Linked DNA regions of Homo sapiens: all the other regions are reported to be linked to region 3. Evidence: microRNA targets listed by miRTarBase, many of them from high-throughput screens and not tested one by one. Region 3 holds a microRNA gene; each other region holds the end of a gene's coding sequence.

The links. Region 3 holds the annotated microRNA hsa-miR-4453 (GAGCUUGGUCUGUAGCGGUU, at 1,448-1,467, shown strand). A microRNA usually pairs through its seed, bases 2 to 8, with sites in the 3' UTR of a target mRNA and lowers its output. Matches are read on the target gene's strand: a 7mer-m8 pairs with bases 2 to 8, a 7mer-A1 pairs with bases 2 to 7 and ends in A, and an 8mer does both.
Region 1: miRTarBase lists ZNF264 as a target of hsa-miR-4453. The part of its 3' UTR that is shown has no 7-base or 8-base seed match.
Region 2: miRTarBase lists CLPX as a target of hsa-miR-4453. Seed matches in the 3' UTR shown: 7mer-m8 at 1,519-1,525.
Region 4: the mRNA of MCM9 is a reported target of hsa-miR-4453. The part of its 3' UTR that is shown has no 7-base or 8-base seed match.

Annotation. Positions count from the first base shown.
Region 1 is chr19:57,212,335-57,217,538 of GRCh38, reverse strand. ZNF264 (zinc finger protein 264) reads right to left here. Exons shown (of 4, transcript NM_003417.5): 4 at 1-5,204. The coding sequence ends at 4,558. Among named protein-coding and RNA genes, the nearest start is that of AURKC, 16 kb to the left of the region's middle.
Region 2 is chr15:65,146,164-65,151,354 of GRCh38, reverse strand. It overlaps CLPX (caseinolytic mitochondrial matrix peptidase chaperone subunit X), which reads left to right. Exons shown (of 14, transcript NM_006660.5): 14 at 442-3,136. The coding sequence ends at 532. Among named protein-coding and RNA genes, the nearest start is that of PDCD7, 15 kb to the right of the region's middle.
Region 3 is chr4:152,534,985-152,539,984 of GRCh38, forward strand. MIR4453 (microRNA 4453) reads left to right here and starts at 1,444; the gene lies at 1,444-1,532. FBXW7 (F-box and WD repeat domain containing 7) reads right to left here and starts at 1,108. Exons shown (of 14, transcript NM_001349798.2): 1 at 143-1,108; 2 at 1-49. MIR4453HG (MIR4453 host gene) reads left to right here and starts at 1,280. Exons shown (of 1, transcript NR_033797.2): 1 at 1,280-4,279. RefSeq lists a silencer at 144-933 and enhancers at 803-1,338, 1,044-1,403.
Region 4 is chr6:118,810,506-118,815,709 of GRCh38, forward strand. It overlaps MCM9 (minichromosome maintenance 9 homologous recombination repair factor), which reads right to left. Exons shown (of 14, transcript NM_017696.3): 14 at 2,950-5,204. The coding sequence ends at 4,319. Among named protein-coding and RNA genes, the nearest start is that of ASF1A, 81 kb to the right of the region's middle.

The DNA of each region.
Region 1 (5,204 bases), not on the chromosome of region 3:
AAGCTGAGGCAGTTAATTGCTTGAACCCGGGAGGCAGAGGTTGCAGAGAGCCGAGATCGCATCACAGCACTCCAGCGTGGGTGACAGAGTGAGACTTGGTCTCAAAAAAAAGGAAAAGAAAAATTACATCTTGCAACATAGCGCTCAATTTTTGAAGAGGAATTACTATTACTTAAGATAGTTACATTAGTAGGTAAGCTAAAGGAACCTAATGGAAGTAAAGTGCTAAATTGCTGATAACTTATTAAACTGTCATAAGTTATATATTTACACTGTAATAGTAGAACAATCACTAAAAAATGCAGATATATACAGACAGTCCCTGACTTAGGATGGTTCGACTTACTACTTGACTTTACAATGGTGCGAATGCGACATGCATTCAGTAGAAACCACACTTGAATTTTTATTTAAAATTCTTTGCAGTAACTTTATTATAAAGTAGGCCTTGTGTTAGATGATTTTGCCCAACTGCAGGCTAATGTAAATTTTCTGAGCATTCTGAAGGCAAGATCGGCTATGATGTTCAGCAGGGTAGGTGTATTAAATGCATATTTGACATAGTATTTTCAACTTGCAATGGGTTTATTGTGACATAACCCCATCATAAGTCAAGGAGGATCTATACTAAAAAACACTACATATGTATCAAATCAAATTATTAAAAAAAAAAAAGGTGAAGTAACCTATAGGAAGACTAGTAAACAACCCCAAATAACAGAGGAACAATAAAAAAGAACACAAAAATCATTTAAGGGCACACTTAAGCCCTAAAATATCAATAATTATTTTAATGTAAATCATTTCAACATACCAATTAAGAGAGACATATGCAGAATGAATAAAAAAAGCATGGCCTGAGTATATGCTGTTCAAAGAAACTGACTTCATAAGTAATGATACAGGTAAGCTTTAAAATAAAATGAAGAAATATTAACCATGCAAACATTAATCAAAATATGCAGGAGTCACTATGAGAACATCAGGTAAAGTATTGACAAGACTATTAAAAGGCAAAAAAATGACATCACATAATGACAGAAGAGTCAATTCACCACAAAGACTTGGCAAACCTACATGTATATGTACCAAACAATACAGCTTTGAACTTTGCAAACAAAAAGTGATAGAACTTGAAAGAGCAACACACTTCCACAATCATGTTCAGGACTTTTTGTTGTTGTTGTTGAGACAGAGTCTCGCTCTGTTGCCCAGGCTGGAGTGCAGTGGTGAGATCTCAGCTCACTGCAACCTCTGCCTCCCACGTTCAACTGATCCTCCTGCCTCAGCCCCCCAGCAGCTGGGATTACAGGCACACGCCACCATGCCTGGCTAATTTTTGTATTTTTAGTAGACAGGGTTTTGCCATGTTGGCCAGGCTGGTCTCGAACTCCTGGCCTCAGGTGATCCACCTGCCTTAGTGGTCTCAAAGTGCTAGGATTACAGGCGTGAGCCACTGCACCCGGCCTATGTTCAGGACTTCAACACCCCTCTCAGCAACTGACAGAAATGCTGGACAGAAAATCAGCAAGGACATAGCTGACTTGAATAACAATGAGCAGGATCATAGAGACATTTATAGAAACTCCACCCAGTAACAGCAGAACACCCATTCTTTTCAAGCAGCTATACGAAACAAGATAGACCCTATCCTGGGTCATAAAAAAATGTTAACACATTTAAACAGTCAGATCAAACATGGAACAAATTAGAAATCAGTAACAAATATGCCAAACACCAGAAAATTAAGCATACTATTAAATAATTCATGGCTAAGAGAGAATGTCTCAAAAAATAAAAACTATTAGAATTAAAATGTAATGAAAACATTAAAACTTGTGGGATCAAACCAATAGTGATATGAGGTAAATTTATACAATGTAATGCTTACATTAAAAAAGCAAAAAAATCTCAAATCAATAATCTAAAACCCCACCTTGAAAAGTTAGAAAGAGCCAAATACAACCAAAGCAAGTGGAATATAATACCGATCAGAGCAGAAATCAAAGAAATCAAGAATAGAGACAAATCATTAATATAAAGTGCTAGTTCTCTGAAGTGAGAGATGAAGCAAAAATTACATCTTTCAGCATGATGCGCAATAAAACTGATAAATGTCTAAGAAGACTCAATCATAAAATGAGTATGCACATTTTAAATATTAAAAATAAAAAGAAGTGCAGATCCTGCTATCAAAAGAATAAGGGAGTGCTACAAATACAGATGAAATATTCCTTCAACAGGACAGACTATCAAAATTTATTACACAAGAAATAGATACTTCGAATAGTTCTACCTATCCAATAAAATAAATATGTAATTTAAAAGCCTCCAGAAGAAAAATCTCTGGCCCAATGGTTGACTAGAGGTCATCAAACATGACAAGAACAAATAACACCAATTCTACACAGTCTTCCAAAAATTAGAAGAGAACTCCTTCCAATTCATGTTGAAAGGTCAAGATCACCTAGACATCAAAACCACACATAAGACATTTAGAACATAAGAAACAAAAGAAAAAAGAACTACACATTATTAGCCAATAAATTAGAGGAATATTTCCTCAACAAAATACAAACAAAGGGAATGATGTCAAATGATATATAAAAACAATTATACTCTACAAACAAGTATGGTTTATTCTAAGGATGCAAGGCTGGCTCAATATTCAAAACTTGATCAAAGCAATACATTCCATCAATAGGATGTAGAAGGAAAATAGCATAATGACATCAACTGGTGGAGAAAAAGTACTGAACAAAATTCCACACTTATTCATAGCAACACAGAGTCTCAGAAAACTGGGAACAGAGGAAATTTTTTACCCTTATAGAGGACATATGTTTTATAAAACTTACATTATACTTCATGATGAAAAACTGAACATGCTGTGCACTGTGGCTCACGCCTGTAATCCCAGCACTTTGGGAGACCCAGGCAAGCAGGTTGCTTGAGCCCAGGAGTTCAAGACCAGCCTGGGCACCATGGTGAAACCCTGTCTCTACCAAAAAATACAAAAATTAGCTGGGACTGGTGGTGCATGCTTGTAGTACCAGCTACTGGGGGGTGGTGAGGGCTGAGGTGGGGGGATCACTTGAGCCCAGGAACTTAAGGCTATGGTGAGACAAGATCGTGCCACTGCACTCCAGCCTGGGTGACAGAGCGAGACCCTGTCTCAAACAAAAAACAAAAAAACAAAAAACTGAACATTGTCCCCCCTACTATCAGGAACCAGGTAAGGATGGCCTTTCTCACTATTCCTATTCAACGCTATAATGGAAGTCCCAGCTTGTGCAATGCAATAAGACAAACAAAAAGGAAATAAAAGGTATATTACAGGTAAGATGAAAGATAAAAAATGGTCTGTATTTGCAGATGACATTTCTATATAGAAAATTCCAAGGATTCTGTCGAAAGAAATAGCTAAAAATAATAAGTGAACTCAATAAGGTTGCAGGGTAGCAAAACAATGTCCAAAAATATTATATTTCTGTATACTACCAAAAATTGTGTGCAATTCAAAGTTCAAACATCAATGCCATTTACAATCACTCAAATTACACACACACACAAACAAAAAAGCACCCTAGGATGCAAATTCTAACAAAAATGCATAGGGATCTATACGCTGAAAATTTTTAACATTAATGAAATACTTTAAGGAATGCTTAACTATTATAAATTAAGAGGCCTACTCCTGCACTCATGAACTACAAGACCCAACATAGTAAAGATACCAATTCTTAACAGATTAATCCACAGACTTAACTCAATTTCTGTAAAAATCTGAACAAGACTGTTTTGTAAATAAGTACAAACTAATCCTAAAAATTATATGGAATGTCAAAGGAACTAGAAATGCTGTCGATTTTAAATAAGAGCAAAGAAGAATCACTTTACTCAATTTAAAAATTTACCACTGACATTTTGAGCTAAGTAATTTTTAAAAATTTAACAAATAAAAATTTACCATATGGCTACAATGATGACGTAAACCAAAAGACGGGCATCAAGACAAAAGCCTGAATGTTAACATGTGTATCCTTACTGACTTAAACGTGAGTATTTCATGGCTCAAGCCCCCTAAGTTGTCATAAAGTTATGCTTCTCAAGAGTAAGTACTATTGTGGAATACAGAAGATGTGCGATTAAAGTTTGCATACTTTTCCTAAACTAACTGTTCTGACACTGGATAGCAATAAATGTACATACAAGCACATAAAGGGTCAAGGTTCTTTACCTTGAAACATTTCCCTTCCCCCAAATACACTAAGAAATCCATGACAAAGCGCCATAGGCTTGGCAGAGAAGCCTGAAAAGATGTGTGCTTGCATTTCATTTTTTCTATGTCCCCTCCTCCTTTTAAAAATAATTCCTGAGATAAAATTGCACTGTAAACTAAGGAGAAAGATGCAGCTGAAGGTTCTCCTATGTGCACAATAACCACTGGGTCTCTCTCCAGGATAAATTATCAGATGGAGAATAAGGCTCTAGACTGAACGAATTTCTAATATGACTCTTCAGATGACAAGTAATATTCAGCAACAGAAGGTTTTCTCACAGTGAAGACACTTGTGGGGTTTCTCTTTGGTATGGTTGATCAGATGCAGAGGAAGATGTTTCCTCTGGCAAAATATTTGCCTCAGTGGTTACATTCAAAAAGTCCTTCCCTAAAAGAAGTTCTCGAAGGGTAACTGAGGTTTGTCCACTTGTAAAAGGTCTTCCCACATCTGTTACACTGATGGGATTTTTCCCAGTATGCATCCTTTGATGCTGAGTGAGGGACGAGCTGCGACTGAAGGCCTTTCCACATTCACTACATTTATAGGGCTTCTCTCCAGTGTGGATAATGGCATGTCGAATGAGGTTTGTGCTCCAGCAAAACGATTTCCCACACTCAACACATTCATAGGGCTTCTCTCCACTATGAATCCGCTTGTGCCTCGTGAGGCCCGACATGCGGGTGAAGGCCTTTCCACACTCCACGCACTCATAGGGCTTCTCTCCAGTGTGGATGCTGAAGTGGCGAATGAGGTCCTTCCGATTGCTAAAGGCTTTCCCACACTCTTTGCACTCGAAAGGCTTTTCTCCAGTGTGGGCCCTTTTATGCAAGATAAAAGTAGAGCAGTGGGTGAAGGCCTTTCCACATTCACTGCACACGAAGGGCTTCTCCCCAGTGTGAATCCGCTGGTGCCTCTTGAGGT
Region 2 (5,191 bases), not on the chromosome of region 3:
TTTTTTTTTTGAGACTCAGTCTTGCTCTGTCGCCCAGACTGGAGTGCAGTGGTATGATTTCGGCTTACTGCAACCTCCACTTCCTGGGTTCAAGCGATTCCCTTGCCTCAGCCTCCTGAGTAGCTGGGACTACAGGTGTGTGCCACCACACCCGGCTAATTTTTGTATTTTTAGTAGAGATGGGGTTTCAACATGTTGGCCAGGCAGGTCTCGAACTCCTGACCTCAAGTGATCAGCCCTCCTCGGCCTTCCAAAATGCTGGGATTACAGATGTGAGCCACTGTGTCCGGCCTAAGCCGTCTTAATATTAAAAGTGCTCCTAATATTTTCTATTATCGTGGCTTTCTTAGCTAGGAGAGGTTACTTTGCTGTTTTGATTTTAAAGATCATGTTTACCTCCATTTTTTATTTTAAAAAAACAAACATGGCTTTTCATTGTAGGGCTCCAACAAAAGAATCCTCTGAAGAGGAGTATGACTCTGGAGTTGAAGAAGAAGGATGGCCCCGCCAAGCAGATGCTGCAAACAGCTAAACTGTCATATTGCTGTCTTGTATATACAGCTTTTCCTTCTTTTGTTTAGGATCATAATTGTCTCTACAGTCTGATATTAAAGGCATTGGATCTATCTTGGATATCATACATGGTCAGAGAAGCCTTTAGGAGAAGAATCAGATCATGTATATAATTGTAACATCACATTGATTTTACGGAAGATGTTATATGGACTTTAATGACACAATGTTTAGAGATAAAATGTACATTATTTTGGTTCAGTTTTTTAAAAAAAATATGCTTTAACAAAATTCTTAGGAATTCTTTTAAGCAATGCAGGTATTGCGATAACTGTAGATTTTACAATAATGTTACTCTACAAATGGGAAAATAAATTCTTTAAAATTGAATATTGAGATACCATTCTTTAGTGTTACCTTTTTTACCCACATGTGTTTCTGAAAATATTGGAATTTTATTCATCTTAAAAATTGGACCAGGTAGGCCGGGCGTGGTGGCTCACGCCTGTAATCCCAGCACTTTGGGAGGCCAAGGCGGGTGGATCACGAGGTCAGGAGTTCAAGACCAGCCTGGCCAAGATGGTGAAACCCCATCTCTACTAAAAATATGAAAAATTAGCTGGGTGCCGTGGCAGGTGCCTGTAATCCCAGCTACTCGGGAGGCTGAGGCAGGAGAATCGCTTGAACTCGGAGGGCAGAGTTTACAGTGAGCTGAGGTTGTGCCACTGCACTCCAGCCTGGGCGACAAAGTGAGACTCCGTCTCAGGGCGAAAACAAAAAATTGGACCAGGTAGTTTTCAAGTAGTTAAACATTTCATTGAAAAATACCCTGAAGAACTATATTTTGATAATTGGTTTAGCTGTATTCCTAGTCTTATCTGCTAATGCATGACACTAACTTCCCAATTGGTTCTGTAAAAAAGGCCATTTTCTTACCAAGTTGTCTGATTTATTTACCATCTTTTTTTTTTTTTTTTTTTTAATTGAGCGGAGTCTCACGCTGTCCCAAGCTGAAGTGCAGTGGTGCGATCTTGGCTCACTGCAACCTCCGCCTCCCAGGTTCAAGCAATTTTCCTGCCTCAGCCTTCCAAGTAGCTGGGATTATAGGCACGCACCACCACACCTGGCTAATTTTTGTATTTTTAGTAGAGACAGGGTTTCACCCTGTTGGCCAGGCTAGTCTGTAACTCCTGACCTTGTGATCTGCTGGCCTCAGCCTCCCAAAGTGCTGGGATTGCAGGCGTAAGCCACCACACCCGGCCTTATTTACCATCTTTAATCCATTTTAGTACTATGGGTGAGTACATGGAATTGAAGTCTGGCTTAAATCTTCAGAAAGTTATATATCTATTTTATTTTATTTTTTTGAGACAGAGTCTCGCTGTGTCACCCAGGCTGGAGTACAGTGCCACAATCTTGGCTCACTGCAACCTCTGAGTCCCAGGTTCAAGCGATACTCATGCCTCAGCCTCCTGAGTAGCTGGGACTACAGGCGTGCACCACCACACCTGGCTAATTTTTTGTATTTTTAGTAGAGACGGGGTTTCGCCATGTTGCCCAGGCTGGTCTCTCCTGAGCTCAGGCAATCGGCCACCTTGGCCTCTGAAAGTGCTAGAATTACGGGCATGAGCCACCGCATCCAGCCAGAAAGATACATATCTAATTCTAGAAATAGCATGCAGTATCAGTCATAGTAACAGCCATGTGCTGACCTAAATAAAATTTCTTGATATTGTGTATTTAACCTGAAGTATTGAGCTAGTTTTTTTGTTTTGTTTTTTGGTGCTGAACATTTTGGTCTAATTCTTTGGCTTCTTAGAACATTTTAAAAAATCTATGTTTTGCTATCAGCCAAAGTAAATGTGTTCACACTAACATATAAGTTACTAACCTTCATTATACAGCAAAGCTAAAAAGTGGTGGGATATTTGGGGTCTTAATGAAAATTGTATCATTTAATTCCATAAATATTAAAATATTTGGGTACCTTTTAAGCTTTTTTTCTTTCCTTCTATAATGGTGGTACAAGTTCTATATTCATTCAGTTTAATCTCATTTGAAATTGTTTAAATCAGAGTACATGTAAATATTTGTGGGTTTTTTTTTTTGGTTTATAGACTCGAGCTTTCCTTTTACACAGTTTTTTTTAGGGAAAAACTAAAGCTATTAGGAAATTCTAAATCTTGTTGATGAAGAGTTGGGCTTTCTTTGATATAATTAATAAAAGGGATGTATGGTATTTATGGCTGGGTAGGACCAGAAATGCACTTTGTATTACAGAGTGTTAAGGCTGGTTGCTATAGTATGGAACAGAAACACCTCTCCTTGGTCTCCCTAGTAATGGTTCAAGTTCTTCCCAGGAAGTCTTACATATTATAACTTTGTTCATTATCTTTCCCTTATAGCATCATTTTCCTTTTTGTAGAGTGGAAATCAGACTAGCTGCTAAACATATTAAGGTTAATCCTCCAGAAATGTACTGGGGAGGCATTTTAGTCACAACAACTTACATTTGGCTTTGGAAGTTGTTAACAAAGCATAGTCGATGTTTTTAAATCAAACATAATTTGTATCTTGGAACTTACATTTTGACATTTGAATAAAACAAAAAGACTAAATGAAAGCCAACGTGGTGGTGTGTCCATACAGCAATGGTGCAGGAGCACTCTGCATTGACAACAACAAGCACAGCCAAACAGTGCCATTTTTAAAAGGGCACAGATGTCATATGAGCTGCTTCATTCTAGGGATTGATTAATCCTTGGCACTTCCATATCAGATAAATTCTAGCTGTAGATTCCACAGACAATGTCTGTTAAACATTTATCAAAAATCCTTACTTAAATGTCCCGCTTGACACTAGGGACACAGGCCAAGTTTTTCAGGAATCTTACTAGTCTTGTAGGGGAAACAAATACAAACTAAAGTGTATTTTAATAGTGGAAGTGAGATAGGTACCAGGTGTGGTGACATAGAAAGTGATGGCCTAGATAAGTCTGGAAGAACAAGTAGAAATTTGCCAGAAAAGAATAATGAGAACTAAATCAAAATCTCAGAAGTGTAAAACAACAACTAGGAAGCTGTAGGAGGTAAGAAATAAGCAACAACTGTAACTTCTTGTTAATACTCTGAAATGACCATTTAATATTCTCCTCTCCATCTAGCTAAGGATCTTGCTTCACATTTCATTGAAAAACCATTGATGGAATTCATCATCCCACCATCTATAAATCTATCTACTCCATCACTCAACCTTTCTCTCTAGTTACAACTGAAGTATCCCTCCTACAAAACTCAGTCACTCCCCACATGCTCTGGGTCTCATCATCCCCTCTCATTTCTCAAGGCCTTTAATTCTTTTGATCATGTCTCTACTATAGTATCTGTGTCCTTCCTTCTGAATTATTCCCAGTGGCATCCAAACACTGCTTAGTATTTCCTGTCCTATAGCAAATCTCCCAAGCTTATTTACGTATCTTTCCAACTACACCATAAGTTCCACAAAGATGGTGACCCAGCCTGTTTTGTTAACTATAACCAGCACCTACCATAGTGCTACATACATCTGGTACCCCATACATTTTTAAAGAAATAATGGAATGGCCAGGCATGGTGGCTCATGCCTGTAATCCCAGCACTTTGGGAGGATGAGGCGGGTGGATCACCTGAGGTCAGGAGTTCGAGACCAGCCTGGCCAAACGTGATGAAACCCCATCTCTACTAAAAGTACAAAAATTAGCCGGGCATGGTGGGGGGCACCTGTAATCCTAGCTACTCAGGAGGCTGAGGACAGAGGATCACTTGAGTCTGGGAGGTGGAGGTTGCAGTGAGTTGAGATCACGCCACTGCACTCCAGCCTGGGTGACAAGAGCGAGACTCTGTTTCAAAAAAACAAAAAAGAATGGAATGTCTTGTATGCCAGGTTAAATTGTAAGTTTTTACAGAAGGTAGTGGGGGGTTATTGAAAGTTTTAGCAGGGGAGTTGAACATGATCAGATGTCCCTTTTAAATTGTTGGGGGCAGGCTCAGGAAAATGAATGGAAGGAAACGTGACTGGAGGCCTACTTAAAAACATTTCTTCAGCACTTGCCCTTCTATCTCCTAGTTCAACAATTTCCTCCACTTTTTGAGGTTAGTTCTCATCAGCATACAAACAAAACAACTTCCTTGAACCCAAATCCTCTCCACCTGTTGCCCAGCTGCTTCTCTTCTGCAGCACAACTAAAAGTTGGTCTTGCATTTTTCCAATTCCCTTCTGAGATTTGACTCTTCTTTTTAAGAGATGGGAGCGGGGAGGGTGCGGTCTCACTCGCCCAGGCTGGAGTGCAGTTGGCACTATCATGGATCACAACATCCTTGAACTCCTGGGCTCAAGCCATCCTCCCACATTGGCCTCCCAAAGTGTTGGGATTACAGGCATGAGCCACCGTACCTGGCTCCAGGCTTTGACTCATAAATGAGAAGCTGTCAGGAGGTTTTGCACAAAGAAGTGATACTTGGTTACAGTGTGAGAGAACAGACTAAGAGGACAAGGAAAAGATGATGGCTTGGGCTAAAGTAGTGGAAGTGGAAGAAGTGAATGGGTAGGTATTTTTGCAAATCTGATTAAAAGTGTTATCCTGTGTTCAGTGGGGAAACTCGTTATTATAAAAATGTCTATTATCCTTAAATTTATAAA
Region 3 (5,000 bases):
CTTCCTCCTTCGGACTGAAGCGGCAGCTGCGGAAGGCTCCGGCGCGGTACTGAGGAAGAAGCGGTGCTCGTGTCGCTAAACCAGGCGGCAACCCGGGTCTCTTCCGCGCTGCCAGGGGAGGGGAGGCGGCGGCCCCGCTTACCTCCTCTTTTCCTCTTCCTGGGTCTTTTCAGGCTGCGGCTTCTGCCCGTCCAGGGCCACTTCTCCCGGGACAGTCAGGTTTGGGAGACTCCGGATTTTGTTTTTGTAAAGTTTCCTCTGGGTGGAGGCTGCGGCCGGCCCCCCGGGTCCCCCCCGGCCCCGCCGCCCTCGGGACTGGGGCGGGGGAGGGGGGCTCTAGGAACTCCTCCCGGAGTCCAGCCAAGGAGCCGGGGGGCCGGCGACTGGCCAAGGGAGAAGACCCCCGGAGGGGGCTGAGGGGAGGGGGAAGGTGAGGAAAGGACGGCGGCGTCGGTCCTGTTCTCTCCGCCGCCCCAGCCGCCGCTTCACATCGGGGTCCCCGCCCCCCCGGCCGGGGGGTGGTTGCCGAGCTTGGTTGGGGCCCCGGTTCATACACTCCGGGGCAAGATGCTACGGCCCCGGGCGGGTGGCCGAGTCGGCGGCAAGGCGAGGGACCCGGCCGGCTCCGCTCGGCGCCGCCCCCGCTCCCGGCTCCCGCATGTGTCGCTGCGGCTGGGACCCCCCTCCCTACACCTTGGGGGTCTCGCCCCACGCCCCACGGGACGAGGCAGAAGCTCTGGCGCCTCCTCAGCGTTCTCTCACCGCGGAGCAGCTACCCACTCCCGGCCCGTGGTAGCCGCCTCCCTGCCCCCCAAGCCGCCGGCTCCGGCTCAGGCTCGGGCTCCGGCTCTGGCTCCGGCTCCGGCGTGTGCAGCCGCCGCTGCCGGCCGGGAAGGTGAGGGGGGGAAAGGAGTGCGGCCGCGGCTCCCGCTGGCCCAGGTGAGAGCGAAGGTCTCGGCGGCGGCCAGTGCAGGGGGACTGGATCTCTCGGATGCTCCTTCGCTCTCAGTCTCAGCGGCGGCGGCGGCGGCAGCGGCAGCGGCAGCGCCCGGAGCTCAGCTCGCTGTCTCCCTCGCTCTGTGCGGGGCTCTCGCCTCACTCCAGAGAGAGGGGCGGGAGGAGAGCGGCGCCTGCCGATGACGCAAGTCACCTAGCAACCGCTCTCTTCCCCCTCCCTCTTCTTTCCGCTCTGAGGCTTCCTCCGCTGGCCTTTTTCCCCCTTCCAGCCACCCCGCCCTGGGCGCCTCTGGCGCGCTCTGATGACGCTCCAAGGGAAGAGGAAGTGGGGATCGGCGAGCGGGTGGGTGCGCCTCGGGCCGCGGGACTCGCAGCCGCCACCGCCGCTGCCGCCTCTACGGCCGCGTCAGAACTGAAGAGAGGAAGGGGAGGAGCCGAGTCGAGCCTAAGCTGCCGCCCGATCTTACCCCTGACCCGAGGGCGGCCTGGAGAGCTTGGTCTGTAGCGGTTTCCTTCGGGGCAGGTGGGGACTGCTCCTTTGGGAGGAAGGAGGAGGCCCAGGCCGCGTCTTCAGGCAGCTGCGCGCACCACCCGAAGGTGAGGCATTTGGCCCCAAACAGACCCTCGAAAAGCCGGACTGATCGAGGAGTTACCCTACAGCCTGATCTGCACCTGCTCCAGGGAGAGAGCGCCCCACCCTTCCCGTGGCGTGGGGTGAGACCCAGCGTTGGATAACGTGTGGTCGGGCCGAGCAAATGTTTGATGAATGAATGAATGAATGAATGCCTCTCTCACGTGGCACTCGTGAAGCTCAGAGGATATGGTGGAAGTGCAAGCGCTTTGTAAACTGCAGTGCATTGTAAAAATGAGTTGTAATACATTCCTCCCCTCCCCCTAGCCATGAAAGGAAACAGGGGTGCGGCTTGAGTACAGAGTCACAACCTGAGTCTTTAGTGGAAAAGGAGACGAAATGCCGAGCAAGGGAAGGGACCCATCCTCGCGCAGATTGTTAGGGCGGCGGGAAGGGAGGATTGGAAGGGAGCCATCCTCTGGGAGATTGCTGAAGGATTTTTGACTGTCAGGGGAAGAATTTAATAGTCCCTCACTTTTACGAATGGTTCTTTCTTACGGTTTGGAGCTTTCGAGAGCTTCTGGTCTTGGTTCATCAGTGTACGTTGTCATCAAGAAATGTTGGCCTGTTTCAGGTCTGACTCAAAGGTTATTTTCTTTCTAAAATAAGTGTTATTACTATTATGCAGCTTTTCCTACAGATGTTATCCTGGAAAGGAAAGTTAAGTAGAAACTCATGAAGTTTAAAGTGTAGTTCTCTAGGAAAACAAATTTAAGATAAAAGGACCAGAATCCTCAGAAATCTGTCTTCAGTGAATAGTATGAGAAAAAGATTAAAGCAGCAGCAATGATGAAAGCAGATTCCACAATTCTGTCCCTGGACCCTAGTACACTCTACCTCCTTGGGAAGCAGTAGTAATGGATTTTACAAGTCTTTCCACCTGGAGGAGGGGGTAAGGTAGGAGCAAGTGTATTATAGACAAATGTGGGAAGCTCTGGGTTTCTCCCACTACTGCCACTACCATCTGCAAACAGTAAACTAAGGAAACTTTTAACTGGGTAAATCCAAGGGCTCGTGTTCATTAAAATGCTGCGGGAAAGGTGGTGAGAGGGGCAAAGGAGGATGTGGCAAAACCAAGGAGAGACTCACAGACTAGCACCTGACCCTACTGCCCTTGACCTGAAGTTCCAAGAGCCAGGTTAAATATCCTGCTTAAATTACCCTGGATTTTTCTGTCTTTACGTGACCAATCCCCTGCTACAGCCTTCCAAATAAGACTCACAGGTAATCAGACCAACAAGTGATGGTCTCACATGGCTACAAAATAAATATTTTTTGTTTTTCCCCCTCTTCCTATCTTACAACAGGGGAATGGTGGAAATTAAAGGAGTAAAACACACAGATTTAGGGGATTTTGTGAAGCTAAACACCTCAGAGAGTTTAACCTTTGTAGGCTTTGAAGGAAAAGAGTGCAAACATCAGAGTTCTGCAGCCCAGCAGAGAACACCTCCAGTTAAGTGTGTACCACATAGGGTTTTTCAGCAGCGTGATCTTCTGTTTTCATTGTCAGTGGCTCCACCTTACAACCTCAGTGCTGAGGAACAGAAGGGCACTCAGGAGAGCCTGAGCCACTTACTTAGAAAGTATTTAATAACAGCACACTAAGCTTACTGGGCTAGATACCCACCTCAGCACCCAGCTTGATAACAGGAGGAAACAGCTGGAACTGGAGACTGGAGAGAAGGAAGTTCATACATTTCCAACTTGGTCTGCATCTCTTTAGTTCCTTGTATTGCTTATTAATCCAGAGGAGAAAACAGCTAGTTAATTAAAAATTCCAAAAAATCTGAAGTTTTAGCTAATAGTTACTTCCCTGGTTCATCAATTTAAGATAAGGATCTAAATACTGTGTTAAAATATAGAAAAACGGAGACTCTTATAAGGTTTTTGACCTCTACACTTGAAAGTGAGCTCTTACAAGAAACTAATCAGTGTTTCGTTATTCCATATCAGTGGCTTTTACTGTCAAAGATTGTGTAAGCTAAATTATCTGGCAAAATTTTGCTTTCCAGAAATACTATCTATATTAATTTTAACATTTTTATTGTGAAATATAGTTTAAATACATAAAGCAATTATATAGTATAAGTGATTATAAAGGAAACCACCATGTAACCAATCAACCAGGTCAAGAAATGGAATATTTCCAGCAACTCAGAAGTTCCCCTCCCTGCCATGACCTTCCCGAACACAACTCTTTCCCTCCCTCCTAAGTGTAGTCATTATTCTAACATTTGTGATAATCATTTCCCTGCTTTTCTTTGTCGCTTTGTCGCAAGCATGCATCCCTAAACAATATATTGTTTAGTCTCACTCTTTCTTTTGAACTTTATGTAACTGGAACAATATAATATGTAATCTGTTGTTCTTGCTGCTTTTGCTCAACATTGTTTTTAATTCATATGTTGTTCAGGTTGTTCCTATAGCTGTAATTTGTGCATTTTCATTGCTGCATATTACAGTGTCCCATTATAACAATATGTGACAATATGTTTAGCCATTCTATTGCTGATGGACATCTGGGTTGTTTCCAGTTTAGGATTGTTATAAATGCTAATGTGAACATTCTTCATATATGTATTCCATCACATCTACGTCAGTTTCTGTATAACATATACCTGGGAGTGTAATATGTATCATAAACTTGAATAAATAATGCCAAGTTCTTTTCTAGAGGGTTACACAGTCACACTAGGTATATATGAGTCCCATTGCTCCACACCTTCACAACACTTGACATTATTGGTCTTTTTGGTTTTGCCAGTCTGGTGGGTGTATGGTAATATATCATTGTGGTTTTAACTGTCATTTCTCTGATTACTGATGCTGTTGAGGACCTTCTTGTATACAACTAGCTATTTGGATTTACATTTTTGTGGCGCGTTAGTATCTTTTCAATGTCTAAGTCTCTGAGATGCCCAACTTTTCAATATCCTTTCATAGTCCACATTTGAACAGGTAAAGTAATGTTATGGGATGTTTAGGGTGTCGCTTTTCTGGCCAGAAACCTCTGTAGCCTGTGGCGCCTTTGCACAAGTCTTGCTCAGGCCCACTGGGCTCATTCCACCTACTTGGCCTGGCAGGCTGTGCTCAGCTTATGCTACCGGCCTGGATCCCACACCTGCCAAGGGCAAGTACGGCGTGGAGTGGCAAGGCATGTGTGAGCGAGCGTGAGGTCTGGCTACTGCGCAGTCAGACACACCAGCTGCTGCAGTGGGGCGGGCAGCTCCAGATGCACCAGCTCTCTGCAAGGCTGTGGCTGGACCAGGCATACTGCAAGCAGCTTCCACAGCTGGCACCAGGGAACACATTGGCACCCGGAAGCTTGGAGACGCCAGGAACTGCAGGGACCCAAAGAGGGAGTCACAGTGTTGGCTTGGGGAGCTCCCAGGTCTGGGCTCCCCAAAAGGCC
Region 4 (5,204 bases), not on the chromosome of region 3:
AGCCTTTAAGGAAGAGATGTGGCAGTGGAACAGATACAAGAACTACTGAGTGTGTCATAAGGGGCGGTTGCCACCACTTCCTGTGCATGTCCTCTGAGTGACAGTGAAGAGGATGTGTGTGGGTAATGGCTCCCCGTATACCTGGGGGGCTATGTCACATGCAAGACAGAACACTGACAGGAACACCCCAATTGGAGTGGGTACTAATGTGAGCCAGGGCGCTTTTATCTTTCTTGAATGTTAATAAGGAAAGCAAGCTCAGAGGATGGTTTTGAACACTGAGGAAGAAGCACTGGCTTAGCTTCCTACATTGTGATGTTAATAGGTTTGGAAACTGGTTGTTTGGTAAGTTGCATCTGAAAGGTTCACCAGGTCCCAGGAAGTCTCTAGTGACCTAGAATTCAAGGTTGGATAGTTTCTGAACTCCTAAATATTGTGAACTGGCTAAAGGCAAGCTCTCTGAGTTAACCTAGGATTTTCTCTAGCATTCCACCCGTTAAGCAGAAGGTTTAGCACATGGAGAAGGAACAGAAATCAAGTATGCCTACAGAATGTGTAAGTTTGTTAGAATTAAAATTTGTCAACCAAGAATAAATGTTTAATGTTTTGGTATACCTTCAAAAAAGTTTAAAATTTGCATTAAGCCACAGAGTTAAAGATATCAGAATAATATGTTTGTTTTGCTCATATTTCTATAAGACACCAAAAATTACAATAAAATTCCTATTATACATTTTAGAATACTACATATGCACTGAAGATTAATCTTTTACAGTATCAGAAAATTCCATTATCTCATATAGTTACAATAGAATTTAAATTCTGGTTTAGCCCTCTCACAGATAAAATTAAGTATAGTTTTTATTGTGTTTAGATAATTTTACATTATTAAAATGTTTTCAAGAAGTACACTGGGACTGAAATCAAAATATTTTGGCAACTTGATTCAGAATTAAAGGTTTTTTGTTTGTTTGTTTGTGAGACAGGGTCTTACTCTGTCACCCAGGCTGGAGTGCAGTGGCATGATCTTGGCTCACTGCAACCTCCGCCTCCCAGGTTCAAGTGATTCTCCTGCCTCAGCCTCCCGAGTAGCTGGGATTACAGGCGCCTACCACCACACCCAGCTAATTTTTGTATTTTTAGTAGAGACGGGGTTTCACCATGTTGGCCAGACTGGTCTTGAACTCCTTACCTCAAGTGATCCACCCACCTCAGCTTCCCAAACTGCAGGGATTACAGGTGTGAGCCACCGCACCCGGCCAAAGGTTATTTTTTACACCTCTCTTTATTGAACAGAAATGTGACCTGTGAGACTGTTCATATTCCCCCAAGACAATCCATGTGCTTCCTTGATACACACATTAAAGACCATACAAGAGAAAGTTTTAGTCATCATGAAATCACGTCTATAACAAAAGTAGGACACAGCAGGATAAAACATGACCTCAGGACATCAAAACACTTTCCAGCTCTGAACCTACTAAACTTGACCCAACAGCAGTGGAAGAACTTTTGCCCATTAGTGACTCTCCTGAACAGGTGACCCTGAGGCCTAGAGTTTGGTCTCTAACACTACTGACCTTCAAAGGAAACAGAGTACCTTGGGGATAGCTGACTCCATGACATGGAGCATGAAGAAATCAAAATGGGTATGGAACATCCTGTTGTTTTCGGATAGCATGGATGCTTTTATAGAAGCATCAGAATGATGAAAGGACATTCAGGTCAACATAAAGGGACTCTGACCAAGCTGTGAGACTGAGCATTAAATATAAGCACAATGAGGCAGTTATAACACATAACAGTCTGTGATAGAAGTTTAACATTTTAGTAAGAAGGATGTTTATACAGGTTGAATATCCCTAATCGAAAAATCCCAAATCCAAAACTTTGTGAGTACTGACATGATGCTCAAAGGAAATGCTCACTGGGGCATTCTGGATTTTGGATTTTCAGATTTGGGATGCTCAACCAGTAAGTATAGGTATAGTGCAAATATTCCAAAATCCAAAAAAATCCAAAATCCAAAACATTTCCAGGCCTAACCATTTCAGATAAGGGATATTCAATATGTATTGGGTATTTTATTTCTTCTAATAATTATGTCTGTTTAAAATATTTAGGTATGTAGTTATTTCTATCTGGGTAAGTACCAAAGAATAAACATATGGAAGTGGTAATTTGGCCAAATCTTGACAGAAGGTACTAAAATGGAAAGTGGATTGATTAGCACAAAATAATAGGATGCATGGTGGGCACAAATTATAACCAGGTAGAAGGTGGCATTGGCAGTCATACACAATGACCAAGGAAGAAAGACAATTCAACATGTAATTTAAAATATGAATTACTCAGTGTCCTAAAGAGACAAGGTAACTATGAAAATTAAATCTCTCATTACTAAAAATGAAACCTCTAAAACCAAAAGTCCCAATAAAGAATACAAATATTTTAAATAACATAACAGATCAAAATACCCTAATGACATGCCAATAGGTTAGGTACTGTCAGCCATGCAAAACCTAATACATAATTACTGCAAAAGATACCAAGTTTCAAAGACAAAAATTCATAAGACATGGACTTAAAAATTTACCATTAAAAAAAGTCAGCTCCACACTGTGGCTTAGGTTTGAGTCATCCTCATCTAAATAATCAGACCACGCCCAGATCAAGATTCAGCTGGTCAAAAACCCACTTCCATTCCTTTTCCTTTAGTTCTGGTAAGAACACTGAAACCCAGGAAAGCAATAAAACTGAAAGATTAGGAATATATTAAGAATCATAGTATACTGGTAAATTATTAAACAGGTACAGAAATAATAAATTTTATAATCATTGTTTATATATGTCTTTTATCAGCTGTTTAAGGTGTTTCAAACTTCAGAGAATGGTACTCATTATGGCCAATCATTTCAAGACTCAGCCACACTAAATTTGTACTCACAGTTTAAATTTTTTCAGAAAATTTTATTAGTGAATTTTAGAACGTTTAAATGCTTAAGAAAAATTGGATTTTCTAAATTTGTTTTCAATGCGTGAATTGAATGAAGTGAAAATTAAACAAAATACATATAGTTTTGAGTATTCTATGTCCAAAAGTCCCTCTGACAATTAAACAATCAGTTTACAAATTCACACTTCAGAAGAGAAAGTCCATAATTACTGAATCCTAATAACCCTTATTAGAATCCAAAGGAATAAGTGATTTTAAAAGCACATAGAAAGACAAAGCTTGAGGTTATCTATTCTGACCAAAAACAGTATATAATTTCCTTGGTTTTAAAGACAAGTGAATCACAACTTAGTAGGAATCACATTTCCATATTAACCAGCTGGGTAGATGAGACATGATGTTTGATTGAGACTACCACATAGTCTCTCTTCTTCATTTATTTTATTTTTAGAGACAGGATCTCACTCTGTCACCCAGGCTGGAATACAGTGGTGTGACCACAGCTCACTGTAACCCCGAACTCCTGGGCTTAAGCAATCATCCTGCCTCAGCCTCCCCGAGTAGCTAGGACTACAGGAGTGAGTCACTGTGCCTGGCTCATACTCTCTCTTCTTCTAATCACAGTATTTTACTTGGTTGAAGGTAGGCCCCCAAGAGAAAAAAGAATCTGAAGTACAAAATGTTGGCTCAAGAAAGAAAGGACAACTCAGAAGGTCAGTACTTCAGAAAGGTACTGTTTGACCAGTGGCCAGATCTCTAAGAACATCATGGAATTGTAAGGATACCTCTCAAAGAAAGAAAAGCATTAGTCACATTTAACCTGATCCACACAAATCAATACAAAAATAATACTAGAAAAATAGTCTGATTTTGGCAAATCATCCAAGTGATTATATTCACTGTACTTAGCCCATTCCAGGTGAAAATACAAAAAAAAAAAAAAAAAGTAGAAAAGAGTTCATCTGCCTTGTTAGATTTATGAGTGCTACCTTCTTGACATTTGTTCCTGAGTGAATGAAAGAAGAAATTAATCTAGGGAAGAACCTCTCCCCCTTAAAAACAAAACAAAACAAAAAACAGAAACAGCTTCAGGAACAGGAATACAAGTACTCCATTTGTAAAATTAAGCACAACATAATTAATTCAGCTCAGCTGCTGGTATCACACTGACCTCAACTGATTATACAACTTTTTAAGTCATGAAGATTAACCTGAAATTAGAAAGCCTTAAGGGGGAGCCAGTATTCAGAGTGATCCTCAATATGGCCAATTGTTCTATACATTTATAAATACCATATTGATATCCTGAAGGTCCTCTGTGGAGTTGAAGAAGGTGAGATTTGACCAGAAAGCTTTTCCCAACTATGACTTTTTTCTCATCTCTTCATCCCAGTCACAATCAAATGCTTCATCACCTAGTTCTGGTAAAGTGAAGAGGGATTCTTTGGAAACAATCAGTTTCTCGGTGGACCCACGGAGCTGAAAAGATTTCCTTTTACTGACACGCATTGGAGCTGTGGTTGTAGGAGGGGAGCTTGGGCCTCTCTCACCTCGGTTCTTCCTTTCAGGAGGAGGGGATTTTGATTTGGATTCCGATGGGGGAGTAAAGCAGAAGTTTGCCAATCTGGCTAATGTGCAGGCATGAACCTTGCCGCTTTTATTACTGCCTGAAACCTCTTCCTTTTTGTCTCCCTCACAAGTAAGATGAGCACACCCAGTCTCGTTCCCAAGCTCTAATTCAGGCTGAATAATCCTCTTCTCAGGGGCACACATCACCTTCTCTCTTGGTCCGTGTTTCTCTGGTGGCTGCTGCGACACCTCCTTTGTCTCACCCTGTGGCTGACTGGAGATCTGGTTTCCTGGGGTAGATGTTAACTTTCCTGGACGCTTCACCGGCAAGGCTGCGTCTCTTCTTGTTCTACGCTGGGAAATTTTAGGACTATGAACTGCTATTTTAGTTGCACCAGGTGACACATGGCTGTGATCTTCAAAGGAGTGGATCAGTTTTGACTTCTGCTTGAAAGTAAATTTTGCCAGTTTGGCCACAGGGGAACCTGGAGGCTTAACATTTTCAATTGCAGGCTCTTCCACTTGCGCAAGGGATTTCGGTCTCTTTCTTTTGGGTGAGTCCAGCATTCTGTCTGGGCTATGTACAGGAGTGGACTGAGGATGGGAAGGGACTGTGCACTGTGCAGGCACCCTGGTGCTATTTCTGCACAACTTCTGGGCCCTCTCTTTGCACAGCTTC